Homo sapiens: one gene and its partners. The protein of the gene in region 3 interacts with the protein of the main gene of each other region in a pairwise test. Each region holds a gene or a part of one and is shown on either strand. Other genes may lie near its edges.

Evidence for each region.
Region 1: the proteins of LSM14B (region 3) and TCEANC interact in binary tests that used the Homo sapiens proteins (3 or more experiments, as listed by UniProt).
Region 2: the proteins of LSM14B (region 3) and HOMER3 interact in binary tests that used the Homo sapiens proteins (3 or more experiments, as listed by UniProt).
Region 4: the proteins of LSM14B (region 3) and JPH3 interact in binary tests that used the Homo sapiens proteins (3 or more experiments, as listed by UniProt).

Annotation. Positions count from the first base shown.
Region 1 is NC_000023.11:13,648,609-13,656,386, reverse strand, and holds the start of TCEANC (transcription elongation factor A N-terminal and central domain-containing protein), read right to left. Parts: upstream 3,247-7,778; 5' UTR 3,199-3,246; exon of another isoform or gene 2,948-3,198; intron 1,099-2,947; 5' UTR 1,014-1,098; intron 1-1,013.
Region 2 is NC_000019.10:18,930,861-18,938,641, forward strand, and holds part of HOMER3 (homer protein homolog 3), read right to left. Parts: intron 7,625-7,781; coding exon 7,493-7,624; intron 3,551-7,492; coding exon 3,443-3,550; intron 2,186-3,442; coding exon 2,064-2,185; intron 1,273-2,063; coding exon 1,116-1,272; intron 766-1,115; coding exon 649-765; intron 552-648; coding exon 465-551; intron 1-464. UniProt on the Homo sapiens protein: Postsynaptic density scaffolding protein. Binds and cross-links cytoplasmic regions of GRM1, GRM5, ITPR1, DNM3, RYR1, RYR2, SHANK1 and SHANK3.
Region 3 is NC_000020.11:62,117,517-62,125,801, forward strand, and holds the start of LSM14B (protein LSM14 homolog B), read left to right. Parts: upstream 1-4,958; 5' UTR 4,959-5,150; coding exon 5,151-5,277; intron 5,278-5,588; exon of another isoform or gene 5,589-5,707; intron 5,708-5,939; exon of another isoform or gene 5,940-6,168; intron 6,169-7,100; coding exon 7,101-7,264; intron 7,265-8,285. UniProt on the Homo sapiens protein: mRNA-binding protein essential for female fertility, oocyte meiotic maturation and the assembly of MARDO (mitochondria-associated ribonucleoprotein domain), a membraneless compartment that stores maternal mRNAs in oocytes.
Region 4 is NC_000016.10:87,604,727-87,612,507, reverse strand, and holds part of JPH3 (junctophilin-3), read right to left. Parts: intron 1-7,781. UniProt on the Homo sapiens protein: Junctophilins contribute to the formation of junctional membrane complexes (JMCs) which link the plasma membrane with the endoplasmic or sarcoplasmic reticulum in excitable cells.

The DNA of each region.
Region 1 (7,778 bases), on a different chromosome or scaffold from region 3:
TTGCCATAAAAAGACAAGGTAAGGCATATGTCCAGCTTAGTTCTACATAGTTCATTCAATAAATATATATTAGGGATTGAGTATGTGCTAGATGCTGAGCCTAAAGAGACAGTCTCTGCCTTGAAGGAGCTGATAGCCTAGTGGGAGTAATACTGACAAGAAACTGGCCAGTTACAACACATGTGGAATTTCAACATGGACAGACACTGGCTGCTAGGGGAAACACACGCAGGATGGCACCAAACCCTATCTGGGCTCGCCATCATCTGGACAGCTACAATTTGCTTCTTTACTGCCTTCACTGTACTTCTGGCACTCACAAGGCCCAACTGTGAGTCTGGCACTTTGTTAGAGGGATCATCCTCTAGTACAGATCTCAGAAAGATACTCCCTCATTTTCCTGCTGAAAGCCCTTGAGAGGTTTCCCCTTGCTTTCATGATGGAGCCAAAGCTCCTTGGCCAGTGGCAAAAAGAGCCCTAGCAGGCCTCCCTCTTGACTACTCGCAACCACTGATGGGCACGGCTCTGTGCCTTTGCTCAAGCAGCATCCCGAGCCTGGCTGATCTCTCACCATTAGTGGTTCTCAAGCCTGGCTGCACATTAGAATCCTCTGGGGAAATTAAACAACAAAAAACAAAAACAAACAATGGCAGGGCCTCACTCCAGATAGGATGAATTAGGATCTCTGAGGGTAGGGCCTGCATATTGGCTCAGCTCTCCAGGGTGACTCTGATTTAAACCACACACAGGCATACAACCCTCTTCCACACCCCAGCAGGACCTGCCAGTTAGGCTGCCATCAGCCCCAAAGACAGCTCTGGTTCTGCTCCTGGACCGAATGCAGACAACTCTATGACTGGCTTTTCTAGATGAGTCCCATTCAGTCAGAAAAGATTTAAAACACCTACTGTGTACAATGCAGCTGACAACCTTCTCTACAAATTACAAATGACAACTGTAATATTTTAAGTGTCATAATGTACACAATTCCTGATATTCACCCTCTCACTTACCTCTTCACAGTGGAAGGCAACATATATTTATTGAGCAACTCTCCAGGCCACACACACTCCAGTCATCTCAATCCTCACAATACTCCTGCAATACAGATAATGGCTTATTTTCATCTTACAGGTGAGGAAACCTGCTAAAAACAGTAAATAATTTGCAAGTTTTTTTCATGGTGTTAATCACATTTAAAAAACGTTTTTACTGCCTTCCCCACAAGACCATAAGAGAAGATCCACATGTTTTATTCACCTATACACACCTAGCAAACACCCAGTCAGTGCTTACTATTACTTAACACATTTTTGTTGTTGTTAAATGAGTAATGAGCATCCAGGATGCTCTCTCTCTTCTCTGCTTGGGAGCTTCATTTCTTTTCACTACACACCAGCTTGCTTGTACTCATTGCACCTAAGCCCAGTGCCCCTTGGCTTCTTTCGTAGGAGACCAAGCCCATCTCGATTCTAGTTCAAAAAAATCATTCAAAAATTCTAGTTCAAATAAATCTTGTTAAAAAAAACAAAACAAACAAACAAACAAACAAAAAAACCATGGTGCCCACTGTGGGCTAATGAAGTGGGTTTGAGGGGTCAAAACATTTGCATAAGGAAGGTCAAGCAGGTCCAGTTCCCAGAAGTGAGGGGTGCTGAGCAAGTTGGATAAGTTTCTTGACCATTCTGTGCCTCAATTTCCTCATCTACAAAATGGGAGAAATCCAACATCCTAGGATTAATGAGAATTAAATGAAAGTCTTGATAAAGTGCTTTGAACTATGGCTGTCACACAGTAAGTGTGAATAATAGGATGTGAATCTACAATTAAAAGGCTTAAAAATATCTACCAAACCAGGCATTGTTCTACAGCAGGGGGTCAGCACACTTTTTCTGTTAAAGATCAGAAGGTATATATTCTAGGCTTTGTAGGCCATACAATCTCTATGGACTACTCAACTCTGCTGCTATTGTAGCAGCAACAGCAGATACAGAAAATAACATAAATGGATAGGCATGATCTTGCTCTGGTAACACTTGTTTACAAAAACAGGCAGGCTGGATTTGGCTGCAGGCCATAGTTTGTTGACCCTTTTCTAGAGCAGGGCTGTGCAACATATATATAACATGTAAACCACAAATATGATTTAAAATTTTCCAGTAGTCATGTTAAAAAATAAAAATTGGTGAAATTAATTATACATTTTATTTAACCCAGTGTATCCAGAATAGTCATTTCAACATGTGATTAATATAAACAAATTGAGATATTTTACATTCTTTTTCATGCTAATTCTCGAAAATTCACTGTGTCTTACACTTACAGCACATCTCAATTCGGACTAGCCACATTTCAAGTGATCAAGCCTTATGTAACTAATGGCTATCATTATTGGGACGCCACGGTTCTAGAACTGATGCTAATATGGATAATGCTTGCTTAGGTGCATACCTATACCAAAAAGTGTATACAGTGCCAGGAAAAGTAGGCACGAAATATGGTATTGGATCCATATAAAAACTTATAAAGATTAGCTAATATTATAGTAAGCAAGGTGCACACATCTGCACAAAAATGGCCTAAACCCTGAGAAGAACGAGAGGAAAGGTCTGGAAACAATGTTTCCAGAAGTTTGTAACAAGTCAAAAATAACCTAGATCTGTTCAGATCTTTAGATCTCTTTAAAGCCTAAAGAGAAACTGTAACTTTCTAGCCCTAACCCACTTAACAGCTCCCCAGCTTCACAGGGAGCCCCGCCCTCTATGGAGAGAAACGATGCCAAATGTTGGCAGCGGTGTAGCGGTTACTGAACAGCCACTCAGCACTGCACTAGGACCATTTCCCTTAATGGTGACCCCTAGTAAAGGTGCAGCGAGAGGAAGGGACCAGCCCAACTGCCCGGTCTAGCCCGGGTTCGAGTTCCGGTGGGTGGGGTCGAGCAACATGCAAAGCCTGCCGCTAATCATCTTGGGATGACGGCCCGGCACCCAGCACACAAACAGCGACAGTCCCGAGGGTTCAGCCCACTCTGGCGACCTCGACAGTCGGAGAGGAAGGGGCGGGGGTGCGAGCACCTTCGGATCTACGCCGCCCAGGGCGCACCGGAAAGCTGCCGCGAGCCGGGGTGGGCTTCCGCTGGGAATAAGGGCTCGCCTTTTTGCGGGACACAGGCCCTGGCAAACCTGAAGCATGACTCACCGAAAAGCGCAGGCGCAGTTCCGGAGCCTTCAGCCGCCCAGTGCCCACGGAGAACTTCCGATCACCGGGACTGGGACAACGTCAAGGCTCAGCCAATCCAAGCCCACAGGCCGGCGCACGTGGTCCTGGGACCCAGTGCATGCGCGCTAGGGAAATGGCTGCCGTGGGACTGCGCTCGCGCGGCTTCCTAGAGGAGGAGCCATGGCCCCGCCCCGGGCCCGAGAGAAAGAAACTGCACTTTCGTTTTTTAGCAGCAAAGTTTGTTGATGTACTTTACAACTTATCTTTTCTGCTTCTACTCAGGACAGTCAAGACAGTGCTCAGCTAGATGTTCACATAACTGTAGACATAAATGTGAATCTATTTAACGCAGTAATTAATTCAAAAAGTGTTTTTAGCATCCTAGCATGCATCAGTTGATATGAAAGTAGTAAATGTTAATTGAGTGGTCTTGTGCATCCTGGACTTCTCATCTGTGCATATTCTCATTCTTTGCCTGCAAAGGGCCAGTAAAAGCACAGTGATGGTTGAACGAATGTGACAGCCTCCTTTGCTGATGCCTTACCCCAAGGTAATTTGGGGAAAGGTTCAGGGAAACAGAGTATCCAATCCAATACTCTGGACTGGGTGCTGGCAGGAAGGAGGGCGATTGTATGATTAAGTATCATAATAAATCTTACCTAAAAGGAGGGGAGACAAGACCAGTGACTCATTAACTGGGATAGGGGATGTTTGGTCATTTTTGTGGTTTGGACAATGTTTACGTTTTTTCAGCATTCCCACGTGATTACGAAGGAGTCTTGTTTTTGTCTTGATCCATCTGGTCAAAGAGTGGCCACGTCTGATGGTGTTCTGTGAAGTATTTATGTTCCACGCAGCACCAAGGCCCAGCTGTGACTGCCGGGGCAGCTCAGAGCTGTCAGGGGTTACTTTTTTCTTGCTGTCTATTATAGGGCTAAAATGTTTAAGGATTATATAATACCTTTTTAAAGAAAAAATTATTTGGCTGGGCGTGGTGGCTCATGCCTGTAATCCCAGCACTTTGGGAGGTCGAGGCAGGCGGATCATGAGGTCAGGAGATCGAGACCATCCTGGCTAACACGGTGAAACCCCGTCTCTACTAAAAATACAAAAAATTAGCCAGGCGTGGTGGCACGTGCTTGTAATCCCAGCTACTTGGGAGGCTGAGGCAGGAGAATCGCTTGAACCCGGGAGGCGGAGGTTGCAGTGAGCTGAGATCGAGCCATTGCACTCCAGCCTAGCGACAGAGCAAGACTTGGTCTCAAAAAAAAAAAATTATTTAATGACACTTGTCACTTGTTAAAGCATGGTAAGGAAGACTTTATTCAGGACCATTGAGATAGACATAGGTACCACTGCAACAGGGTCTTGCAGTGGGGAAGAGAGATTGGGCTCAACTTCAATTGTAGCATGGAAAAGTGAGAATTTATAGCCAAGGAGCAAGGTAGGGGGGTCAGTGGATGGAAAATTATTAAGAGGAAACATCAGGGGTAAGGGGGATTCTGTCTAAACCAACCTGACAAGATTCTTGCTGAAGACGGGCCAGGGTGATCAGATGTCACCTGGAGGTTGGTGGAGGATGAGGAACCAAATCAGATATTAAGGGTGATCAGATATTGAGGGTGGTTGCTTTTGGCTAAACTGATTTATCAAGGCTTTTTGCTAAAACTGGATTTTACAAGGAAGTGCACAGATAGGCCTAGTCAGGAGACTGACTAAAGTTTGGTTGGAAAAGAATGCTTGATAATCTTTACTTTTGCCTGTTAAAATAAAAAAAAATTGACGTAATTTAAATTTGGCAGAGTTTATGTGAGCAAAGAATGATTCATGAATCGGACAGCACTCAGAATCAGAATAGGTTCAGAGAGCTTTGTGGGCCGTGAGTATTTATAGACAGAGAATGGAAGTAAAATACAGAAATAGGCTGATTGGTTGCAATCAATGATCAGATCATTTGGATATGATCTGAGAAGTTGGCAGCTTGTGATTGGCTGAAGCTTGTCTGCTTGTGTTTGGCTGAGACTTGGCTGTTTATTATACTCTTCCTTAGGTTAAGCTTTCAGTGTATTTATGTACTAAGTTAAATTGCAATTCATTGTGTAGAAAATCAAAGTACAGAGACAGCCTTGAGCCAATAGCCTCCTGCTTATTTAATTTAACATGCTTTAATGGTATTTCTCTTCTCATTGTTACTTTTTTGGTTCATTTTATGAGTACTCTTGCCCCACTTTGTAAACACTGATTTAAAAATCCGAAGGACTATTGGCTCCTAGACCAACCATCTCTAGTTTTAGACAGTTACCTAGGAAAAATACTTTCTTTGTGATCAGATTTGTAACATGCAATTCTTAAAATATCTGATATTTGTCAAAACAATGGCACTCAAACTATGAAAGGCTCAATCTGAAGGAGTCAGTTTGGAAACTAGAAGTTACTACAGAAGTGGTCATTAGAGCTTTGAGGCATATTATAATCAATTTCTCATGAACTCTATGCTGAAGAAAAAAACAGAAATTACTCAAAAGTCTAAAATCAAAAACAACCTAGTGTTTTCTCTGGTGTGAAGGATAAGACCATTATTTCAACTAAGAGGCAAGCTATAATTACTGCGTAGTCCTGCCTTGTCTACTACAGTAGCCACATGTGGCTATTCAGATAAAATTTAAACTTCAGTTCCTCAGTTGCACTAGCTAAATGTCAAGTTCTCAATAGCCACCTGTGGCTAGTGGGTACCATATTGGATAGCACAGATATAGAACATGCTCATTGCTGTAGAAATTTCTGGCTGAGTTCATCTGGAATGAATCTAGGGCTGCCAGTGGATTCTAAAGAGGTTGCTGAAAAGTTTGTTCTTTTGGGCAATTTAAAAATGGAATACCTATAAAAGTACTCACATCTATGATAATTTATCATGCATAGTTTTCAGGCCTTTGTTTTAAAATCATCTTTCAGCTGCTTCAATACTCTGGAATTCTCTTTGATAAATTTCCCTTAGTGCAGCGGAAACCTCTTTTCAATCCTTATTAAGTCTCTGAGTGGCAATATATTAATAGATATTCTGAGCTCATGCAGACAGCCCTTTCCTGCAAATTCCCACGGAAGAGAGACAAAATCTTATGGGCCTTCTCCAGAGGCTAATGTTACACATTGCTGAGGGAACAGTTACAGATGTTTTCCATGGAATGAGGTCATAGAAACTGCCTCTTTCTGGGTTCTGAGGTGCCGGCCGGTGTTCATTTCCTGATAAAACACCAGGACCAGACACTGGGCTTAACTGGGGATGTTCTTATAAGTCACAGTACATAAGGCATGGGATTAAAACGATGAAGAGTTCCCTTGAAATCTCAGGAGTTACAGAATATTAGGAAATAGAACAAAAAGTCATACATTATAGAAACAGAAACTTTATGTTTAAGTTCTGCAACATATTTCTCAGACTTATGCAGGTGAAATGACAGAGAAGCAGCGAACATGGTATCTCCAGTGAACATCCCCAGAGGCTTCCAGAAGAGCTAGTTCAACGGGTCAGGCAGTCCCTGGCTGGTGGGCCACAGATTGCTTAAACCAACCTAATACCTCTTTTGTTCTTTGGAGGGGCCCACTTTGGAGATTTTTTGGAGGACCCTCCCTTTGCTGGTAGCCCCTTATTACCCATTCCATGGTTCAGATGCTGCACCCTCTGGTTAACCGCTGGCTCCTGCTTTTGGTAGCACATCCCACACAAACTTTTTCTGTCGGGTTACCTCACCTGCAGGCCTGTTGGTCAGGGTCCTTCCAAGACAGCCTAGGCCCAGCTGCTTGCTTGATGTGCACTTAGCCCATGGGAACAACCCAGCGGCCCTGCTCCCCGCCCAGCCCTGGAAGCAGGGCTGTTCCCTCTGCAGCCCTTCTCGTCATCTTCACAGTTGGTCTTAGGTAGCTCTAGCTGGCTTCTCGCCTATTTATTGTTTTTTTTTTTTTTTTTTTTTTTTTTTTGGAGAGTCAGACACCATTCTACAACAGGGGCACCTGTCAATCTCTCTGAGTGGTTCTCTCAAAGTCACCCTCACTTGCCTTGGAGTGGGGGTGGGAAGGAAGCTTCCAGAACTGTAACAACCCTCTTTCACTGTTGCCTTCTCCTGTACATAAGCTGAAGAGTGGCAAACGGGCATGGGTGACAGGAGTTTTTGGCTCATCATTTAGTAAGCCCTGGGTAAATGGTCTAACATCTCTCATTAGAACCAGCAGACACTTAACATTGTGCTCTCACCTTTGGGGCCTTGGACAAAACTCTGAGTCAGGAAATATCCCATTTAACACCTTCTTGTACCTGTAGTAATCTCCAGATCAGTTCCATACCTCTTATTCTCCTTTTCTATACCATTTGTCCATTTTGCTAATTTCTCTAGAAGGTATGTTATTCTACCATAGATTTATGGCAACATTTAGTGGAGGAATGATGAAGGACCAGAAAGTCTGGCTTCAGTCACCTCTTGGTTGATATGGTTTGGCTGTGTCCCCACCCAAATCTCATCTTGAATTGTAGTTCCTATAATGCCTATGTGTTGTGGGAGGGACCT
Region 2 (7,781 bases), on a different chromosome or scaffold from region 3:
AGCTGGGTGTAGTGGCGGGCGCCTGTAATCCCAGCTACTCAGGAGGCTGAGGCAGGAGAATTGCTTCAACCCGGGAGGTGGAGGTTGCAGTGAGCTGAGATCGTGCCATTGCACTCCAGCCTGGGCAACAGAGCGAGACTCCATCTCAAAGAATTAAAAAAAAATAAAGCCAAGCCAAGCCAGACCTAGTTCCAATGCAGGCTCTGTGATCTCAGGCTGAGAACAGGAGGAATTGACGGGGTCTGGCATGGGAATACAGCAGGAACTCAAGCATTGCTTGTTGAACCCATAGATGGATATGAAACTGTACCAACAGCCACTGTTCACGCGGCACCTGCTGGGCATCAGGCCTTCCACAGGACTGGGCCTCCCAATACTTTATCATCTTAGGTAGATATTGTCCTGAGTGTCTGTTGAGGTGACTGTCACCCACCGTCACCCCACCTCCTTGTGCCCACACACACCTGCACCTTCTGCTGAGTCTCCTCACGCTCGGCAGCCTCCAGGGCCTCGCGGGGCCCCCCAGTCTGACTCTTCAGGGTCTGAATCTCCTAGAGGAGAAGAGTTCCCAGGGTCTGTTGCGGGGGTCCTGGCTTTCCCACAGGAGGTGAGGGAAGGCGAGGCCCAGGAACCACACTTGGCACTCACCTGGTCCTTGGTTTGCACCAGAGCTTCCAGCTGTTCCAGCGACTGGCCCTGGCCCAGCCCCTCCTTCTCACCGGTGGGGGTCACCTCTGAAGCTGCCTGAGCCTCCAGCTCAGCCACCTGTAGGGCAGGAATAGCAGCCCCTGACGCCCCCGCCTGCACTCTCCCTTGCTCGCCCAACCTCTAGGGAATCTGCCTCCTGTCTGGCCACGCCCAGGACCGAGCACCCATCTCCCTTGGTTGGTGCCACCACCCCCCTCTGCACAGCTTGGACTTTAGTGTCTGATCACCCTCTGAGGCTGGCATTGTCTCAAACCCATTTTACAGAGCAAGAAACTGAGGCTGGGTCAGTGACCTGCTGAGGTCACACAGCTAGTCCATGAACCCAGGGCAGATGGGAACTGCCGAGGCGCGGTCTCCACAGTTGCCCGGGCCAGGTGGGGGTCTCTCGGAGGGAGGGGTGCCCTCACCCGCTGCCGCAGCCGCTCGGCCTCTGCACGCTGAGCCTCCAGCTGCTGCCTCCACTGGGCTGCGGCGGCGTTGGCCTCTCGCAGGGCGCCTGCCAGCTTGTTGTTGCTGTCCTGCAGTGCGAAAAACTCGGCCTCCCACTGTACCTCGCCCACGGAGCTGCAGAGACACGAGGGTCGGCAGTGGGTGACACGGGGCTGGGGGGCGGAGTCGGGCGATGCTGGGCTAGGGGGCGGGGCCAGGGGTGGGATAGCTCTGGGCTTAGGTCAGGGCGAAGGCTGGCGAGGGTGCGGAGTCGTGCGCGAAGTTGGACTAGGGGGCGGGGCAGGGGTGGAGTGGCACTGGGCTGGGGGCGGAGTCAGCGGCAATGCTCGGTTAGGGGGCGGGGCCAGGGTGGGTGGCGCTGGGCTGAGGCGGAGTCACGGGCGATGCTGGGCTAGGGGGCGGGGCCAGAGGAGGGGTGGCTTTGGGCTAGGGCACGGAGTCAGGGCCACGCAGGGCTGGGGATGTGGCGACACTGATTGCTGAGCTTGGGGATGGGGCAGTCCCGCAGAAGCGGGGTCTTGTCGAGGACCGAGTCAAAGAAGGGGGCACGTGGAGTCCGCCCAGTGACACTGTGGGAATGTTGAGGGAGGGATGGGAGGTTGGGGAGAGTCAGCCGATGGGGGCGTGGTCAGGGTGGTTATCCTAAGACCAGAGAGGCATCGACGGGGCGAGGTTAGCAGCGAGAAGAGACAGGGATGGGGTCAAAACAGAGGGGCGTGGCCAACGCAGGGTAGGGGCGGGGTCGGCTCTGGATGGGGCAGCATTCAGATCCTCATCCCCTTCCCCAGGTCTTGAGTCCACAGTTAGATCCCGCCGTCCTGGCACTCCCTTGGCTTCCAAGAACCGCCTCCTCGTCCCCCACCCCTACCCCCGCCCCTGCCACGCCCCCAAGTCCCGCCCCTCACCCCTCAGACAACATCTTCTTTAGCCGCTCGCGCTCTGTGGGGCCGGGGGCATCAGCGCTCTGGCTGCGGAACAGTTTTTCCTCGCCGGGGCCGTTGGCACTGACGAGAGGGCTCGGGGGCACCTAGGCACGGGGAAAAGAATAGGTCACGACCCCACATCAGCTGGGATCAAGGCTGATGTGACTGGGGTCGTCACATCGGGGGTGCAATTGACCTATGCACCCTAAGCAGGTCCTTCACAGCACAGGATCCAAGTGTGTCCCTCCCCACCTCACCCACCCTCCATGGCTCCCTGTGGCCCCTAAGCTGGGAGTTCCATGCCCACGCCCTCGACCTTGCCTTCCTGGGCTTTCACCACCCCCAGGAGCAAGTCTGATGCAGGTTAGTCTAAACCAAGATACTTAGAACCTGTAAGGTAGGGGAGGGGTACAATCGGACACCTCCCTGCTGTTCCCTTCCCTGAGGCCGAACTTCAACATCACGTTTAGGATTTCAGCAGGAAGCCCTGCCCAGGCCGAATTCGTGTTTCGTGAGCAACCCCACTGCCTGGACCACTGGCTCTGAGGGTAGACAAGCTGGCGGGTGCCCTGCGAGAGGCCAGCGCCACCGCAGCCCAGTGCAGGCAGCAGCTGGAGGCTCATGCTTTTTTTCATCTCTCCAACCCCTGTGCACAGCCCTCGGCCTGGTACACAGCAGGTGCTCAATAAATAATGCTGAATAAATTAATGTGGGAAAACACGCAGGGACAGTTCGTTGTTCTGCCTCACACTTAGCCATTTCTTTCTTTCTTTTTTTTTTTGAGACAGAGTCACACTCTGTCACCCAGGCTGGAGTGCAGTGGCACGATCTCGGCTCACTGCAACCTCCATCTCCTGGGTTCAAGCGATTCTCCTGCCTCAGCCTCCCGAGTAGCTGGGACTACAGGCGCATGCCACCACGCCTGGCTAATTTTTGTATTTTTTAGCAGAGGTGGAGTATCACCATGTTGGCCAGGCTGGTCTCGAACTCTTGGCCTCAAGTCATCCTCCCTCCTCAGCCTCCCAAATTGCTGGGATTACAGGCGTGAGCCACCGCACCCGGCCACACTTAGCCATTTCAATTTCTAGTCTTCCATCCTGCCATCTGAGCTGGTTTTGCTACTGGGACCTACTGGGTGTACCCCACCGGCCCCAGGCAAGGTCCAGACCCTCTATGACACACTCCACACCACTCCTCTGTGGTCCCTGCTGTGGGTCTAACCTTAGGTCATCTGGAAGCATTGGGTCTTGACGACCAGCAGAGTGCCCCGGTCTCCCAATATCAAGGTCCCCCAATATCAGTTGAGCGCCTGGCTGACTCACAGGTGCCCAGGCAGGCATAGGGGAGTAGGGAGTGCTGACCTGGTGGGAGGCGAGCCCCAGGGCTGGACTGGTGAGCTCCCCGCCATCCTGAGATTTCTCCCTGGCCAGCCTGGCTGCTTCCTTCACTTCCTGGAACTTCTCGGCAAACTAAGGGAGTGGGGAGGAAAAGACAGTAAAACCCCAGCCCATCCTCCCAAACAGGTCACCATCACTCAGTGACAGCCCCGCCACTTTCGAACCGTACCCATCCCCTTATCACACACCTTGGAAGAAGGAGAGAAACTTTGAAAAATGATGTACCATGGTGGGTGGGCAGGTGGCATCAGATCACAGAGGTGGCATTTAAATACATTGGGCCACATTGAGAAAGGGAAAGGAATTCCCATGTCCTCTTTTTAGGAAAGGGTCTCACTTTGTCACCCAGGCTGCAGTACAGTGGCATGATCTCGGCTCACTGCAGCCTTGACCTCCCTGGCTCAAGTGACCCTTCCACCTTACCCCTCCACCAAGGAGCTGGGACTACAGGTGTGTGCCATCATGCCCGGCTAATTTTTTCTAGAGACGGGGTCTAGCCATGTTCCCCAGAATGGCCCTTTTCCTGTTTTTTGTTTTTTTTTTTTTTGAGATGGAGTCTTGCTCTGTTGCCCAGGCTGGAGTGCAGTGACATGATCTTGGCTCACGGCAGCCTCTGCTTCAGCCTCATGAGTAGCTGGGATTACAGGCATGCACCAGCATGCCTGGCTAATTTTCATATTTTTAGTAGAGATGTGGTTTTACCATGTTGGCCAGGCTGATCTTAAATTCCCGGCTTGAAGTGATCCGCCTGCCTCAGCCTCCCAAAGTGGTGGGATTACAGGCACAGCACCCAGCCTTTTTTTTTTTTTTTTTTGGGGGGGGACAGAATCTCGCTTTGTCACCCTGGCTGGAGTGCAGTGGCACCATCTCAGCTCACTGCAACCTCTGCCTCCCAGGTTCAAGCGAGTCTTCTGCCTCAACCTCCCGAGTAGCTAGGACTACAGGCCCGTGCCACCACGCCCAGCTAATTTTTGTATTTAGTACAGATGGGGTTTCACCATATTGGCCATGCTGGTCTCGAACTCCTGACCCCGTGATCCACCCACCTCGGCCTCCCAAAGTGTGAGAATGACAGGTATGAGCCAACATGTGGGGTCCCTTTTAATCTTTATCAGGGCTATTTCAACAAAGAGAGCCTCAGGTGGGTGCTAATCTGTCTTTAACACCTGTTATTATTCCTTTATAACAAAGAGATTAGGTCTCAGGCTCTGAGAGACATCAGAAGTCAATGAGAAAGTAATCATCTCATTCTTGTTTTTGTTGTATTAAATGTTTACATGTTTACATTTACCACCTATTTATGACAAAGCAATACCAGTTTTCCAGTTAGGATAGGATATGTTTCCCCCCACCACCCCGGTTTTAAAATAAATTTCCTTAGTTTAAAAATAATTTTTTAGGCCGGGTGCGGTGGCTCACACCTGTAATCCCAGCACTTTGGGAGACCAAGGCGGGCGGATCATTTGAGGTCAGGAGTTCGAAACCAGCCTGGCCAACATGGTGAAACCCCATCTCTACTAAAAACACAAAAATTAGCCAGGCATGGTGGTGGGCGCCTGTAATCCTAGTACTTGGGAGGCTGAGGCAGGAGAATTGCTTGAGCCCAGGAGGTGGAGGTTGCAGTGAGCTGAGATTGTGCCATTGCACTCCAGCCTGGGTGACAGAGCAAAACTCTGTCTCAAAATAAATAGATAAGGCCATGTGTGGTGGCTCACGCTTGTAATCCCAGCACTTTGGGAGGCCGAGGCAGGTGGATCATGAGGTCAGGAGTTCAAGAGCAGGCTGACCAACATGGTGAAACCCCATGTCTACTAAAAATACAAAATCAGCCAGGCATGGTGGCACATGACTGTAATCCCAGCTACTTGGGAGGCTGAGGAAGGAGAATTGCTTGAACCGGGGAGGCGGAAGTTGCGGTGAGCCGAGATCGCACCATTGCACTCCAGCCTGGGGGACAAGAGTGAAACTCTGTCTCAAAAAAATAAATAAATAAATAAATAAATAAATGATTTTTTAGGCTGGGTGCAGTGGCTCACACCTGTAATCCCATCACTTTGGGAGCCTGAGGCAGGCGGATTACCTGAAGTCAGGAGTTTGAGACCAGCCTGGCCAACATAGTGAAACCCTGTCTCTGCTAAGAATACAAAAATTAAAAAAACAAAAATTTTGTAAAAATACAAAAATTAGCCAGGTGTGGTGTGTCTGTAATCCCAACTACTTGGGAAGCTGAGGCAGGAGAATTGCTTGAACCTGGAGAGAAGAGGTTGCAGTGAGCCGAGATCGGGCCACTGCACTCCAGCCTGGCAACAGAGCTAGACTCTGTCTCCAAAAAAAAAAAAAAGACCTAAATTAGAAAGGTAAATTGTTGGGGCCGGGCGCGGTGGCTCACACCTGTAATCCCAGCACTTTGGGAGGCCAAGGTGGGTGGATCACGAGGTCAGGAGATCGAGACCATCCTGGCTAACACGGTGAAACCCCCGTCTCTATTAAAAATACAAAAAAAATTAGCAGGGCGTGGTGGCAGGCGCCTGTAGTCCCAGCTACTAGGGAGGCTGAGGCAGAAGAATCAGAAGAATGGTGTGAACCTGGGAGGCAGAGCTTGCAGTGAGCCAAGATCGCGCCACTGCACTCCAGCCTGTGCGACAGAGCGAGACTCCGTCTCAAAAAAAAAAAAAAAAGTAAATTGTCTGGGTGCAGTGGCTCAAGCCTGTAATCCCAGCACTTTAGGAGGCCAAAGTGAGAGGCTCGCTTGAGGCCAGGAGTCAAGAACAGCCTGGACAACATAGTGAGATCCTATCTCTAAAAAAAATAAGATTAAAGATATTAGCTAGGCATGGTGGCATACGCCTATAGTCTCAGCTAGTCAGGAGGCTGAGGTGGGAGGATCCCTTGTGCCCAGGAGTTTGAGGCTGCAGTGAGCCATGATTGCACTGCTTCACTCCAGCCTGGACAGCAGAGCAAGATCTTGTTAAAAAAAAAAAAAAAAAGAAGGGAGGGAGGGAGGGAAAAAAAAAGAAGAAAGGTAAATTCTAAACCTTCTAGAAGAAAACAAAGAAAGCCTGGTGTGGTAGCTCATGCCTGTAATCCCAGCACTTTGGGAGGCCGAGGCAGGTGGATCATCTGAGGTCAGGAGTTCAAGACCACCCTGGCCAACAAAATCCCATCTCCACTAAAAATACAAAAATTAGCTGGGCGAGGTGGTGGGCACCTGTAATCCCAGCTACTCCAGAGGCTGAGGCAGGAGAATCGCTTGAACCCGGGAGGTGGAGGTTGCAGTGAGCCGAGATCGTGCCACTGCACTCCAGCCTGGGGGACAGAGCAAGGCATTATCTCCAAAAAAAAAAAAAAAAAAAGAAGAAGATCTTCGTGAAAGCACTCATCATCAACAAAACCACGGATAAAGATAATAATGGAAGTATAGAGACGGCACAGGGTGCAGGGAGGTGAGGATGAAGGTATTGCTGGGGCATGTGGGAAAGTGCCCAGCCCAGCCCAGCCACCCATTTGATGTCCCAAAGAGGAGCAGGGTGTGTCCAAAATTAGAGCTACAGGCAGTAGAACTAGGACTCAAGAGCAGGTACAGTGGCTCATGCCTGTAATTGCAGCACTTTGGGAGGCCGAGGCAGGCAGATCATTTCAGGTCAGGAGTTCGAGACCAGCCTGGCCAACATGGTGAAACCCTGTCTCTAATAAAATACAAAAAATTAGCTGGGCGTGGTGGCGGACTCCTGTAGTCCCAGCTACTCAGGAGGCTGAGGCAGGAGAATCGCTTGAACCCGGGAGGCGGAGGTTGCGTGAGCCAAGATCACTGCAGCCTATCTCAAAAAAAAAACAGAAAAATGAACTAGGAATCAAACCGGGGAAGCTTAAAGGGGCTTCAGTCTCAACTCATCCTACAATCCCATCCTGCAGATGGGAAGATAGGGGACCTGCCCAAGATCCCAGAGTGAGCCCAGGAGAAGACTTGGGCCCAGTCTCATCGGTTCCCTCCACTCTCCCCCTCACCCGGCCCACCTGTGTCAGATGCTGTTCAGAGGCAAAGCCCAGGCCGTAGACTGTGTTGGCGCGACTGTCGGCCCACTGCCCGAACTTCTGGGAAGTTTTGGTGAAGGTCATGTTGGGAGTGACAGTGCTGTTGATGATGGCCTAGGGTCGGGGAACAAAGTTCAAGGTAGATGGGACAGATACTAACAAACATGAAACCCCCCAGGTATTACCTTGTATTAGGGTCTTGAAGGTCTTTACTCTGAACCCTTTCAGGAGATAGAGACTAGGGCCTGGGAAGGCTTAGGGTTTCCTGTCC
Region 3 (8,285 bases):
ATCCTTTGCATGGAGTCAAGAGAGGATACAATGTAATAGGAGAGACCCTTGAAGAAGAAGCTGCTTCCTTCCCTCATGCCCAGTGCCAACCTCAGGTCAGTCTCCATCTGGACATCTGCAGAGCATGAGCTCCAAGTGCAGAAATCGTGTCTGGGCTTTGTCCCTTCCCGCCGTTCACTATCCCCTCCCCCCGCCCCAACCTGAAGGCTGAGCACAGAGGACCACCAGGGAGGAGGCCCGGACGTTGAGCACCCAGGGTTAGCAGCCGGCAGACTGACACAGGAATCCCAGCCCTGTCATGTGCTGGCCGTGTGACGCTGGCTGTCACCTAGCCCAGGCTGAGAGCCTGGTTTCCTCCTCTCACAAGGTGCAGCACCACATCCGGAGGGCTGCGGAGGGGTTCGGGGAGGAAATGCGTGGCCGGCTTGGGCACCAGGTCTGGCACTGAGTGGTGGGACTGGGCTGGTGACACTCAGTAAGACAGTGGTGGATTGACTTAGAAGGGGCCTTTCATCGTTTACTTTCTATCCAAGTAGAACACAGGGCTGGGGAATGCTGCCCCCACCCCAGCCATTCCTGAGCCCCTAAAGCCCAGGAGCCCCTCACAGCCACCGGGAGAGAAAAGCTGCCAGCCTCCCGCTGACAGCCCGTCTTCTGTTCCACCAGGATCTCTCAGCATTTGATCCTGCATTCTGAGGTGGCAGCACCAGGGCTGGCCCTATCAGAATCTGACATTTCGAAAGCTGGTGTCTGGGTCTGCCCAGGTTCTCATCAGCTCCAGCCAGCTGTCCCTCCAGCTGCACCTGGAAGCGGGGCCGAGGCTGCCCGCTAGGTGCTGGAGTTTAACACACTCCTCTTTTATTTTCCAAGGAACTTCCCATCACACAGGGCTCCTCACGCCAGGAAACTCGGCTGTTGGGGTGGGAAGGGGAGAAAGGGAGGTGGAAGGGGGACAGGAGGCAGGAGGGGGAGATGGATGGGAAGAGGGAAGAGGGTCTGAGGATGCCTGAACTTCAACCCACTGGTGCTCATCCAGCCTCCCGGGAAAACAGCCCTGCAGAGCCCCATGCAGGAGGAAATGGATTTTAACTGGATTCACAGAGAGCAGGTCAGACCTCCATGAGAATTCCTGATGGTACAGGATCAACTCAGCCCTCCCTCCTCACCTTACTGTCCAGCCACCTGTGGGTCCCTGTGCCCCGAACACCCTCCCTGGGCCTCACTGTCCCATTCCCTGCCCGGAAGTCCTCCTAGCAAAGCTGGCCCTGAGCCTCCCCACACGGCACACCTGTGCCCTCCTCAGCTCCCTTCAGGCTGGTGCTGTTGCACCTGTGCGGTTGGAGGGTCTTCCTCGGGGGAGGGGGCCTGAGGCCTGCAGGGCCTCCCCAATCCCCTCTCCTGCGCCAGATCCTGAATGAGGGGACGGGGACGGTTGAGTCCTGTCTCACCAGCACGTGGCCACACTTCAGACCACTGACTTATCTGTGGACCACCCATCGTTAACGCCCTCTGAATTAACTCAGCTGTTTTGTGTGGCGCCTACTGAGCAATGACACCTGTGAGATCAATGGCTGTGCCAGTCATTCTTGCTCAGGGGAACATTAGAGTCACAGGATGGTTTTCTGTGGTGGGGCACCCTTACCTGCTGCAGGATGCTGGCCTGTGCCACCCCAGCTAGACTGGTGATGCAACGTGGAGCAGGGTCCTTACTCCATGTCTCCCCACCTGTCACTGGGGACCACGGCATGCTCCTACATACACAGAGCAAGCACGTAATGAGTGGCTTGTGGCTGCAGCAGAAACCTCTCCAGCTGTCCCTATGGCCCTCCCAGTGCCCTCAGCACACCCAGTTCCTACACGTTCCTCCAGAATAGCCCCTGGTTACTCTCAAAGCCCTTCACAGGCATGATCTTCCGGGGTCCTCAAGCACACCAGTGAGATGGACAGGCAAATGAAGAAACTGAGGCAGGCAGTCCAAGTGGCCCAGGGTTTCCCAGAAGCCCCAGCTCATTCCTCCAAATCCTTGGGCTCGCTGGTCTAAAGCCTGGTGATTACCAGGCAGGTGGGCTGTTCAGACCTGTGCACAGTAAAGAGCTGCTTATAGTGGAGGTGCTGGATACATGTGCCCCAGCCTGGAAAACAAGCCATGCCAGTGAACGTCCAGGTCGACTTAGGCCTGGCACAACTGTCGCCTTCTCAGACCTCACCCAAGTGCCCTCCACTTTGGGCAGGATACCAAGGAATGAATGGCAGGGCCTGCATTCCTGGACCTGGGCACTACGTATATTTTTAGCCTCTGCCTTCCTGGGCATTTGCAGGGTGGCTAATGTTCTCAGGGAGCCACCAGCTGCACACCCACGGGCTGGGCAGGCACTCGGAGGTCTCTGGGAACTGCACCCTCCCTGCCTTCAGTCCGGGGGCTCAGAGGCCAGCTCCTTTTCAAGGCAGAATCAGCTCCTGCTAGTGAAGCATGCACCCCACCCCCAACACAGCCAGAAGCCTGTGGCTCAGAAACTAGGAGGCATGAAGTACAGGATTTGTGACCTTGGATTTCCTTACTTGGAAAATGGGGTGGGGTGGGGGGACAGAAGGACTTTGACTCCACATGGGATCACCAGGCCAGCTCACTCAGGAGACCTGGTTGGCACCTCCTCCTGACAGGTGCACCCTGTATATCCAAGTGGGGAAGGATGTGCTGTGTTGAGAAGCTGAGAGTCTGGGTCGCGCTTCCCAGGGCCAGATGCCCCAGTCGCTGGAGACCTCTCCTCCCTGAGCTGGGCTGACTCCATGGCTTTGCTGTCTCTGTTCTCTTCCTGCATATGATGTTCCAGGAGCCAAGAAGCAATTCTAGAATGTACAGGTCAATCTTGGCAGATGAAACTGAATTTTCCCTCTTCTCTTCTGCTTCCTGTGTCCCCTTCCTTAAACTCATCACTGTTCTCTTACTGGCCATTGCCGGGCTCTGGTGGGAGCAGGTTGGCTTCACCTTTGTGAAGAGACAAGAGACAGTGTGATGCGGCCCCAAGCCTGTGGAGGATGCCACCAGGCCAGACTGCAACTTCTCTGCGTGACTCCCCCGTGCTGGGCCTCTGTTTCCCCTTCTGTCAAATGGGGAGTCACAGCGTCTACCCTGCAGGGCAGGTAAGATCTTCTTATTATAGTCAGAAACACATTCTAGGTCCTTACCAAGTCCACACTTACACAAACAGGTGAATTAAATATTTCACAAAATAATACTTACTTTCACCATGCGAGATACTATTATTTTCTTTTTTTCCTTTAGAAATAGGGTCTTGCTGCCACCCCTGCGTGCAGTAGTCCAATCACAGCTCATTGCAGCCTCCAACTCCTGGGCTCAAGTGATCCTCCCGCCTCTGCCTCCACCTCCCCAGGAGCTGGAACTACAAGTATGTGCCCCCACACTCGCCCAATTTTTTTTAAAGTTTTTTTTTTTTTTGTAGAGATGGGGTCTCCATATGTCGCCCAGGCTGATCTCAAACTCCTGGCCTCCAGTGATCTTCCCGCTTCGGCCTCCCAGAGTGCTGAGATTACAGGCATGAGCCACCCACCACGCCATCTGATATCTTCTAGCTTATTCTATTTCATTTTTATTATTATTTTTCTTGAGACGGGGTCTAGCTCTGTCGCCCAGGCTGGAATGCAGTGGTGAGATCTCTGCTGACTGCAATCTTCACGTCTCAGGCTCAAGCGATTCTCCTGCCTCAGACTCCCGAGTAGCTGGGGATTACACGTGTCTGTCACCACGCCCGGCTAGTTTTTTTGTATTTTTAGAGTAGAGACAGGGTTTCACCATTTTGCCCAGGCTGGTCTTGAACTCCTCACCTCAAGTGATCCGCCCGCCTCCGCCTCCCAAAGTGTTGGGATTACAGGCGTGAGCCACCGCGCCCAGCCTATTGCATTTTTATAGTCACCACCCACTACTTTTTTTTTCCAGGACCCAATATTGGTCCGTGATCTGATGATGTTCACGGTCAAGACGGAAGCAAAAAAAGCACACACCGCGCGCCCTCGGTCACTAATCACGCGGAGTATACGCGAGGAGGGCCCGCAGCTAAGCGACGGCGGGCGGCCGAGCTTCCTCCACGGCCGGGGAGGTGGGCAAGGCCTCCGGGCCGCAGCCCCGGGTACGAGCGGAGGCTCCGAGGCCCCCGGTAGCCAGTCAGAATTTATTTTAAGGGAAATGGAAAGCTGCGGCAGGCTTTGGGAGGAGGGGCAGGATTAAAAGAGAAAGTGTGCTCAGCATGTTATATTTAGAGGCTGCCACGCCGGAAGCGCCGCCTTCCCGGGAGCTGCCGCCGCGCCCGCCCCCCGCCGGCACCTGGGCACTGGGGCGGGAGTCCCGGGGCTGCCCGGGAACACCCGGCGCCCAGGGCCTCCGCCACTCCCCGGTCCCCCATGAGGGTGAGGGCTATAGGCGCATCTGGCCCAAGATAGGGGAGTCGTCCGGACCCCACTTCTGTAGGAGGGGAAACTGAGGCCAAGGGGGCAAAGCCCCCGTGTTCGCGGCGCCCAGGGTCCGGGGCGGCGCCGGCACGCGCGCGGGCGGGGCCTGGCGCTCCTCCCCGGTCCCGCCCACTGAGCGTGCAAACCGCAGCCGCCCGCCCACGCGCACGCGCGCTCCTCCCGGGCCGCTTCCCACCCCTCCCCCCGCCCGCTCAGTCTCGTGCTCCCAGCTCCGCGAGGGGCCCGCCGGGAGCCGGCCGAGGGTGGGGCGGATCGCCGGGGAGACCCGCCCCCGGCCAGCGGCGCCTTGCTGCGCAGGAACGACGCGAGGGCCCGCCCCCCAGCTGGCGGCCCGGCCATATTTAAAGGACGGCGGGCGCGGCGAGCCAATGGGCGGCGAGCGTGAAGGGGCGGTGCGTGGCGGTGCGTGGCGGCGCGAGGCCCCGGATGTGGCTGCGGCGGCCCCTCCTCCCCCGCGCTCCTCTCAGAGCCCCAGTCGCGCGCCCCTTCTTGGTTCGCTCGGTGCCCGCGCAGGCCCCTCGGGCGGTGGCGAGGAGGCGCCCAGGCGGAGGCGGCGGCGGGCGGAGGAGCGCAGGAGCGGGCGGCCAGGCCACCGCGCGGCGGCGGAGCGGGCCGCGGCCCGGCGCTCCTTCCCCACCGCGGCCCGACGCACCCCGGCCGCCGCCATGAGCGGCTCCTCAGGCACCCCGTATCTGGGCAGCAAGATCAGCCTCATCTCCAAGGCGCAGATCCGCTACGAGGGCATTCTCTACACCATCGACACCGACAACTCCACCGTGGCGCTCGCCAAAGGTAGCGGCCGCCGCCCGCCCGAGCCCGCTGACCCCCGTCCGCCAACAGCCCCGGCCTGCGGTGCCCTCCCCGCCCCGGGGCGCCCCGGAGCCTGGCGCCCAGACCCCGCCCAGAACCCACCCAGGGCACACCCGGCCCGAGATCCCCTGCCCGCGCCTTCACCCCGGACGCCCCCGAGGCGCCCCCTTCCCGCGCGCCACCCTCCCCCAGCGTAGCCGGCCGCACAATGGTCTCCCTGGGCTCCCAGGGCGGCGGGATTGTGCGCGGGCGCCCGGCGGTGTTTGGTGAGGGGCGGGCCCGGCCCCCGCGGTGCCGCCCCCTCGGCCGCCCAGCCCACCTCTGCAGGTGCCAGCTCCGAGGAGCAGGGCGGCTCCCGTCAGCGGGCCTCCTCCCCGCCAGCCTGGGGGGATCCCTGCGGGGGAGCCTCGAGGTCGGGTGGCGGGGCCAGTGTCCCGGCGTCTCCCGAAGGCTGGGGGTGGGGTCACAACACGCGAATCCTGCAAGCCTTTCTGGAACTTATTAGACAGCTGGGGCCTTGATCCTGAACAAATACCGCGTCCTAATGCGGCCTCCTGCCAAGGCAGAAGCATCCGTTGGCAGCCAGATGCCCCGGTTTAAACGGTTCTCCTGCTCTATCCTGACCTTCCCACTGTGGGGCTTACCTTTTGGTGACAGCCGCCTGTGGGTGCTCGTAACCGGCTGTGGCCGCTGGAGGACTTACAGGAGGGGGGCTCTTTAGAGTCAGAATCTCTGAGGTTGTTGAGGCAGCGGGTGGTCCAGAGTTTCTTTGTCTTCATCACCCAGAGAAGACGGGGAGTGCACTTCCCCTGCCTCTCAGAGAAAAGTGCCCGTGGAGCCACGTCTGCCTAAGCCCGTGTGTGTGCTGGATCTGGCGCTAGGCTCCCAGGGGTTCTTGAAGTGTCTAGACGCGTCTGAAACGCTGCTTAGGTCACAGGGAACTTCATGTGTAGAAGAACGCACTCATTCCAAACAGGGAGTGTCTCCTTTTGAAGCCCGTCTCCTGCGTGGCTTCAGGAGCTTGTTGAGTATGCCAGGGCTATGCACTCACTTGCAGCCATGGAACCTCACTACACTTATTACAGGAGAGCCCAGTTAGAGAAGCTGAGGCCCAGAGTAGGCCCAGGAGTTAGCAGGAGTTGTGTCTTACCAGTTAGAGGCTGCTGTCCCACCCACCTCTGCCCCTAGAGGCTTGCTAGAAAGAGACTTGGGCGCTCCTGGAAGCCTGCTGGTTAGGGGTTAGTAGACTCAATTCCTTATAGATGCGGAAGCCGGGGTCAGAGGTCCATAATCCTGGGACCCTGTCTCCCTTTGTTTTCTGTTACAGCTGTTCCAAGGTTTGTTATGGATAGAAGGGTAAGGGCAACACTCGTCTAGATTCCTTTGTGAGAAAACTGCCTCCTCAGGCGCAATGTGCGGTGAGGCTTTGGGCATAAAGCAGCCGGCTGGCTGTTGGATCTACAGAGTCAAACGTGAACAGGGAGGCCTTACGAAGCAAGCCTTGTTTTGCTGAGAGCTCTGTACGTTGGTGCCTTCGCACATCAGACTGTCAGTCTGTGAAATTGTTCCTTGTCATCTTTGTGATCTAGAGCTGTCTGTTGTCTGGAGCTTCACCAATTGGTGCATTATCAGCACTGTCCATTGAAAATCGGGGCATTAAGTAGTTGTTGAAATGTGGACCTGGGGTGCTGTGTTGTGGCTCTGAGCAAGTGTCGCCGTCTTTTGGAAGGCTTGGGAGCAGTGGTGTCAGGGTTGATTGAACTGGCTGAGGACAACAATAACGCTTCTCTTTCTCCACTCATAAGTGAGGTCCTTTGGCACTGAAGACCGTCCCACAGATAGGCCTGCGCCCCCCAGAGAGGAGATTTATGAGTACATCATTTTCCGAGGAAGTGACATCAAGGATATCACTGTGTGTGAACCTCCGAAAGCTCAGCACACACTCCCGCAGGATCCCGCCATTGTTCAGGTAAGTGTGCCACTGTCCCTCTGTGCATGCTGTAGGAGATGCTGGTTTCCATTTGGAGCTTGGTGGCATGTTTGGTCAGAACGCTCAATGTGAGGAATAACCTTTTTTTTTTTTTCTTTGAGGCAGCGTCTCGCTGTGTCACCAGGCTGGAGGTCAGTGGCGTGATCTCAGCTCATTGCAACTTTGGCTTCCCAGGTTCAAGCAATTCTCCTGCCTCAGCCTCCCGAGTAGCTGGGACTACAGGGACGCACCACCATGCCCAGCTAATTTTTGTAATTTTAGTAGAGACGGGGTTTCACCATGTTGGCCAGGATGGTCTCAATCTCTTGACCTTGTGATGCACCCGCCTTGGCCTCCCAAAGTGCTAGGATTACAGGCGTGAGCCACCACACCCAGCCTGAGGAATAACCTTTTAATGAAAAGTGGCTTAACTTTTGTCCAGGCTGTTGCTGCTCTCACAGAAGGTGTTGATTCTTGTAGCACACACAGTAGGTGGTGTGTGCTGTGTCACGTGGCTCTTAAGGAAGGCGACCTGGGGAGTTGGGTGTGCATGTGCGCGTGTGTAGTGTAGTGTGGTATGAGTGGATGCTCCTGGACCTGTGATGTTTCGGGCATAGCGTTTGCCCTTAGTTTCTGGTTGGAGAAGTCTGAGCCCTGAGCAGCTGCTGTGAGTGGCGTGACCTACCTGCAGGGACTGCAGGGCTTGCCCTCGGGTTACGCCCAGTCGTTACATGCTGCTGTTATACAACACCAGATTTGCAAGTCTGATGCCATGTGCCTGCTTATTGGGTTATGGCTTATTTTGCCCATGCTCCCCCAGGGAGCCCAGATTAATATTTTCTTCACTTCTAAATTTAAATATTCACTAGCTCCTCTGGGGTTCAGACTGCATTAGGTTCTGTGCTGAGCACCCATCCTGGAAGGTGGGATCACACAGGGCCGGCTTTGGGAGCAGTGGGAAGCCATCCGATGGCTTTGAGTTAGGAGAAATTTGGGTTAGAATTACATGGACAAGACACCT
Region 4 (7,781 bases), on a different chromosome or scaffold from region 3:
GGTCCTCAACCTGCGCTGAACGTTAGAATCACCTGGAATGTTTAAAAAATAATCTCAGGCCAGGTGCAGTTGCTCACACCTGTAATCCTGTAAAAAAGTTGCTCACACCTGTAAAAGCACTTCAGGAGGCCAAGGTGGGCGGATCGCTTGAGCTCAGGAGTTTGAGACCAGTCTGGGAAACACGACAAAACCCCATCTCTACAACAAATAACAAAACTTAGCTGGGCATGGGGGTGCATGCCTGCAGTCCCAGCTACTCAGGAGGCTGAGGTGGGAAGATGGCTTGAGGCCAGGAGGCAGAGGTTGCAGTGAGCCACGATCACACACTATTGCACGCCAGGACGACAGACGGAGCCAGCCCCCGTCTGAAAAAAATTAAAATAAAAAGAATCCCAATGCCCAGGCTGTACCCAGAGGACCTCAATCAGCACCTGTGGGTGGGGCCCGGGCATCTGCATTTTCTAAAGCAACCTAGATGAAGCTCATGCACAGCTAGGGTTAAAGTGAGTGCACCAAAGCAGGATCTCCTGCACTGCAGCCACCTGAGCATCTCCAAACACACATCCTGACCCTGGAGGTCAGGCAGGCCTGACACGCTGCATTTCTAACCGTCTCCCAGGGACATTCTTAGTGACTCGAATGTGTAGCCAGGCTTAGGAGGCACAAGCCCAGGACTGTGGTTCTTAATGTGAGGTCCCCAGATCAGCAGCCTCAGCATCGCCTGAAATTTGTAAGAAATATAAATTCTTGGGTGGCATCCCAGGCCCAGAGACTCAGGGGTGGGGCTGGAAATCTGTGTCTTGACACACCTTCCAGGTGGTTCTTGTAACACTCAGGCTTGGGAAGCACTGGCATAGAGCAGCAGACAGAGGCGGGCCCATGTCCTGCCCAACTCAGACTCCACCAGCAGCAGAGAGAGCGACTCTCGGTGTTTTTGGAAAGCATTTGCACCAGCGAGCCTTCCCTGGGTCCAGAACAATACCCGTGACATTCATAGGTAGGAGGGAGATGGCACATGTTGAGAAGGAAAAAAATGTCATGACTAAATCATAGAGATGGGGAAGCTGAGGCTGAGGGAGACATGGCCTCGAACAAATCTGCAGCCTCAGGCTTGGGATAACAACTCTCACCCTACTGCCCTTCCAGACTCAACTCAGGCACTGCCTACCCCCAGAAGCCTCTGCCGCTCCTTCAGGGACACACACACCTGCCCTGCCCCTCCTCAGGTCCCTGCCCTGTGGTGCTCCCATTCAGGACCCCCACTGTGGCATGAGAAACCCTGAATTATTCCATATATCTCGGTTTTGCATCCCTGTTCAGACTCCTTATTCTTCCTGGTAGAACATAGGACATCCTATTTCTTGCATTTTCATTTTTATGTGTTTGTTTCTTTTTTTCCAATCTTCCACGTTACCACAAACTCTGTACTGCGTACATACTCAATGCTCAGCAAATACTTAAGGCTGATTCACTGAGGTTGGACCTGAGCTTTTCTGTCTTTGTGCCTTGAACACGGTCTGAACTTGGCAAATGCTTCTCCAATGACTGAACGAATCAAGCCAAGGAAAAGGGAGCAGTAAAAAGATAGTGAGGAATTAAGCAGACTGGAGGGTACTCATCTTTCCATGGGCCTTTCTTTGCACTTTGCAATGAATGCTACTCATTAAATCGTGGTCCAAAAATGCCTCCCAGTCATGACTGCTGGTATCGCTCCATTATTCACTGCATTCAACACCATCATCTTTCTCATATGAAACACTGGCAGTCTCTTAAGGAGCAATGACAAAGCCAACCACAAAACAAAACTGATCAAGGAATTAGAACAGGCATGTTTTAATGCTAATTGTAAAGGGAGACTGACCTGTGGACATGAGGGTCTCACGGAAAAACTTTCCTTTAACTACGTCCAATTCTAAGGTCTTGCAATGAAACAGGCATACGAAATAATGACGGTAAACAAAATTACCAAATACTACCGCATTTACTTGCACAGGTCATTCATTCCACAAATATTTATTGACCACCACGTGCCAGCACCATTTTAGTCACTGGGCACATGGCAGTGACCAGCATGGACACAAACCGCTTCCCATATGGAACTTACACTCCAGACCAGTGCTGCCTGCCCAATAAAGCTTTCTGCACTGATGGAATGTTCTGGATTTACATTGTCCAATATGGTGGCGACTAGTCCCAGGTGGCTGTTGAGCCCGTGAAATGTGGCTGGTACTGGTTCGTTGCCTGTTAGGAACCCAGCCACACAGCAGGAGGTGAGTGGCGAGTGAGTAAGCAAGCAAGTGAAGCTTCGTCTGTATTTACAGCCGCTCTCCAACGCTTGCATTACTGCCTGAGCTCTGCCTCCTGTGAGATCAGCAGCAGCATTAGATTCTCATAGGAATGCAGAGCCTACTGGAAACTGCTCATGCCAGGGACCTAGTTTGCACACTCCTTATGATAATCTAATGTCCGATGATCTGTCACTATCTCCCATCACCCCCAGATGAGACCGTCTAGTTGTAGGAAAACAAACTCAGGGCTCCCACTGATTCTACATGATGGTGAGTTGTATTATTACTTCACTATATATTACAATGTAATAATAATAGAAATAAAGCACACAATAAATAGAATGCGCCTGAATCATCCCAAAACCATCCCTCAACCCTGGGCGGTAGAAAAATTGTCTTCCATGAAACAGGTCCCTGGTGCCAAAAAGGTTGGGGACCATTGGTCTAGAGGACTCACCCATTGAGGCAGATGTAAAGAGAATGGTGGTGAAACAGTTTCACTGACTGGTACAGACAAATCATTCCTCTGCCTGCCTTCGGCTGTGCACCTATGACCCCTGTTATGCTCCAAGAGAAGTGAACACACATATCCTATGGCAGGAATACACCTTAGACTTCAGAGCAACTTCTATACATCTTACTAAAGTCTCACCCTAGGCCGGGCACAGTGGCTCACACCTGTAATCCCAACACTTTGGGAGGCCGAGGCACGCAGATCGCCTGAGTTCAGTTCAAGACCAGCCTGGCCAACATGGCAAAACACTGTCTCTACTAAAACCCAAAACATTAGCCAGGTGTGGTGGTGTATGCCTGTAATCCCAGCTACTCGGGAGGCTGAGGCATGAGAATGACTTGAGCCCAGGAGGCAGAGGTTGCAATGAGCCAAGATCACTCCACTGCACTCCACCTTGGGCTACAGGGTGAGACTCCATCTCAAAACAGATAAATAAATAAATAAAAACAAAAAAATAAAGTCTCACCCCCAAACCCACCTCCACAAGCTGGGAGCTGCTCTCCCAGTTGACCAGCAGAGGATGTTACCTCAGAAGACACTCACTTCTTCAGGAAGGACTGACAGGGTAGGGGTGAAAACATAGGCAGGCATGCCAAGTGGCAGCCCTTCCTGGAGCATGGAATCCATGCACCGACTGAGTAGGACCAGGCACACTTCTTCTTTTTCTTTTGAGATGGGGTCTGGCTCTGTCAGCAGGCTGGAGTGCAGTGGCACCATCTTGGCTCACTGCAGCCTTGACCTCCGGGGCTCAAGCGATCCTCTCACCTCAGCCTCCTGAGTGGTGGGACCACAGGCGTGCAGCACCACACCTGGCTAATTTTTGTATTTTTTGTAGAGACGGGGGTCTCACAATGTTGCCCAGGCTGGTCTCAAACTCCTGGGCTCAAGTGAACCTCCCATCTCGGCCTCCCAAAGTGTTGGGATCGCAGGCGTGGCCCCCACATCTGGCACAGGCATAGGCACACTTCTGGTGGTTGAGTGTGCTGGAGGGTCCGGGACCAGGCGGTCACTGGCAAGGAGAGATGGTTTGGCTTGAAGAGGATGCCTAGAGCGAAAGTGAGTCCAGCCGTCCACCCAACCCAGGCAGGCAGCCGGGAGCGCTCTCCAAGGTGCTGAAGGGACTGCCTCTCTTCTCTCCTCCTCTCCTCTCCAGACTTGGAAGACAGCACCTTACTCAAGTTCGAGCCAGGACCCCAGTGCAGCGGTGGCTCCATCCACCGCATGGCCTCTCACAGCCATGAAGCTACCAGCGGGGGAAGCGGCCAGTCCACGGAGACACGGACCAATGTGGAAAATTCACACCAACATCACCCTCTCCTCTAGTACTCACAAGTCTTTTTGTCATCTAAGGACACAAAGGGCGTTACATTCAACATTATTAGCTCACAGTTGAGAGCTCGTCATATTTAGAGTTGTGGAGGCTTGGGGAAAACAGGAAGAAAAAGTCTTGGAAAGGAACAGCAGAGGCTCCTGCCCCCACCCCCACACTCCACCCCTTCTTGCTCTCTCCGGCTGGGTGTCCTCAGAAGAGAAGGGGTCAGAGTTCTCTCTCTCCTTCTCTGTGTCAGCTGGGGCTGCTCACTCACTACTCCAGATCGCTGCTGTAGGCGGGTGCCGGTCCTCACTCCCCGGCCAGCTCATCTCAGGATTCCTCACACAAAGCCCATCAAACGGCCTCACGGCCAACGTGGGTAGGGGTGCCCTTCAGCCACATTTGTTTCTCAGCTATAACTGGCAACAAAAAAATAGCTGTTTGCTTCTTCCTTTCTCTTTTCACCTTACGGAGCCTTTCACCACCCGCCCCCCGAAGTAGCGGAAAGAGAATCTCGGAGAAAACGCTTTCGTCTCCAACTGCTCAGGGCTTGCTTCTTGTTTCTGAAATGAGTTTCTGTTGGCATAATCTCCGCACCAATGAACCTGATTCCTTCTAACCTGGGCACTCATTTGAAAAAGAAATTACTTGTTGCATAGTCATAGTCATAGCCAAGCACAAAGCATACGCCCCATGGTAGTTTATTTTGTTGAGATGAGGGATTTTTCTCCCTAAAAGGGCACTAACAGCATAAACGTGTGTTTAAAATGGAAACGAAGCACACCACTGCCTCTGTCATCTGAGCTCCCCGTTTACAGGCCTGGTGGAGATTCAGAGTCCTTGGCCAGTGGAGAGCAAGCAAGGCCGCAAGGGCGCAGTGGCTGCGTTCTGGGGGACGGGGTGGAAAATGTCTCCGGGTGGCAGGTGTTTTGTGCGCGTGTGTGTGCGCAGGCGCCTGGGGGGATCTGAATTCCGACTGTGGGTGTGTGTGATTTGTGTGGGTTGAGGAATCTGGGCCGGTGAACGGGACCTGAGTATGAGGGGGAGAGGCTTGGGCGTGAGATGACTCATATCTTTCAGGGTGTAGGAGGGCTTATTGGAGGGGGTAACTTTCGATTCGAGGGGTTCTGTGTACACAGCACCCGAAGGAAAGATCTATACCTGTGCGGTGCAGCACCGGCATGCATGGTGGGCCTCAGGGGGCCAGGGGTCCTGGGCAGTGTATGGGTTTGCCCGTCTGTGCATGGGCATTCACCTGCAATTCTGGGCCACTGTACGCACAAGAGAACGAGAGATATAAACGAGAGGAAAGAACAGGAGGTGTTTTTGCACAGGGGCATTTAGAGAGCGACGTACCTAGCAAAGGCCCAGGCTCTGGGATGGCTGTCCTGAGTGTGACGCCTGCTGGTTCCTCCCAACCCACACCCACTGGGAGCCTCCACTTCCCAGTGTGGAAAATGAGAATAACAAGAAAATCACCCTCTAGAGGTGTAAGAATTAAGGGCTGTAATTCATTTAACACTTGCCACATGCTTGGCAGACAGTAAGTATCTAATGTTGCTATTTAACATCATTTACATGATCACCAGTCTCCTGTCCAGATGTTGGTTCTAATAATGATCATTGTAAGTGACATGCATTGCCTGGAAACTGTAATGAAAAAACTAACGGTAAATAATAATGTATGCTTACTATATTCCTGGCATAGCCACGCACACCATTCTCAATTAATCCTCACCCACCTTACAGGTATTGTTATCAACCTTTTGTAAAGATGAAGAAACAAGCTCAGAGAGGTTAAGTAATCCAACCAGGGTCACAAAACAGGGCATGTAGGGCAGGGATTCAAGCCCAGGATGCAAGCTGGGGTTGTGACTGGAAGCAAGTGTGCCTGTACCCCACACCCCCAGGCCTCACCATGCAGACGGTAGGAGCTACTCAGCTCAATCAGGGAGTACCCTAAGGGGAGGACACACCTGGAGGAGGAGGAGTTGGCACAGGTGTCCCCAGCTGAAATTCCACACCAATTCCAGCTACATGTGGAATACGCTGGCCGCTGGTGCATCATTCATGAAAATCGCCATTTCCCCAAGTCAGCGCCCAGAGCTGGGCTGAGGTTCCAGAGCTTCGCTGATGGCTGCCCAATATTCCCCCACTTCTTGTGCAAAGGAAAAGTCAGAGTGGAGCTGGGGCCATTAACTCCTTCCTCACTGCGACATGGCTGTCACCACCCACCAGTTGACTGGGAAGGAGGCATGGAGGTCTCTGCCCCATTCTGGCGATCCCCACACCCTGCAGGCTCCTTCCATGGGCTGCCTGGGGACACTCAGTGCCATAATCACCCCCTTCCCAACAGGAAGCTGGGAGCCCTCCAGAAAAGTGGCCCAGATGTCCAGGCCCGAGTCCTCAAGACCAGAAGGGTCAATTCTATTTCCTGTCATGCCATGTTGCCAACCAAAAGGGAGAGCCGGCCATGAAGCTCCCCATCTGCATCCCTGCCTGGCTTTGCTTATGGGAGAGCTAAGAACCGCATACCCCTTGAGAGGATGTTGACAATCTGGGCTTCTTCCGGCAATGTGATGCAAGAACGAGGGGGGTTTGGTCCCAGACAGATCGGGGATCCCTGCAGCCAAAGGCTGGGACTCCTGAATCACAAAGCCCGGGCCTTACTGGCCTCATCTGTAGAATGGACATGATCAGGCAGGACCACAAGGAGGGGAAGGGCTTAGGGGAGCAGGATGCTGAGGGAGCTGTCTGGCTGGAGTGGAGAGCCCAGGGAAGTGGACCTATAGAGAAAAACATCTCTCCCCTTAACCCGTCAGATCCTAAACTACACGGCCAGCCACAGAATCAGATCCTTTCTTCCCTAAAAAGTCACAACATAATCGCCGCTCCTTCTCCCTCAAATGTAAGCTCCGTGAGGGCAAAGATCTGTGTCTGCTTTGCTCAGTGTGGTTTTTCCAAAGCCTAGGACACCTGGCTGTCTGCTTTGCTCAGTGTGGTTTTCCCAGAGCCTGGCACACCTGGCTCATAGCAAACATTCCATCAGTATTTGTTGAATGAAAGAAATGATTCCTCAGGACTCTGGAGATGTCTGAGGAGCGTGGGCAGAGTGGGGTGCTCAGCCTCACCCCCAGATATTCTGAGGAGTTTCAGAGACAACGAAAGCCCTGGCTCCTCTCGTCCCCATGCCCTGCGTGAGCCCGGCCTGCACAGTCCTCCTGGAGCAGGCTCAGCCAGGAGCACCTCTGGAGGACAGGTCTGCAGAGCCTCCTGGCCAGAGCCTGGGGGTGATAGCAGCCCCTGGGCTCCAAACAGCCCAGCTGGAAGCGCCAGGCTGCCTGCCTGTCTCAGCCACCCACATCTGCTGCCCGGGCCTCCCTGTGCCTGCACGCGCGCGCACACACACACACAGGCCCACAGCCTGGAACCAAGGGAGCACCGTCTGCTCCCGCCCGGCCCTCAGCGCCCCAGGGTCAGGGAAGCTCTCCAACCTGCTCCATGAAAACAACAACGGCACAGAAAAGGCCGCCTGAGACCGGGGCTGGGCACGGCTTTGACAGGCAGGAGCATTATATAATTAACTGCCCCAGACTCCTCCTCCTCTTCGGGTAATAACGAACCCTGCTTTTCAGTTGCATAAGCCAAAATAATAATTACTCTCCAG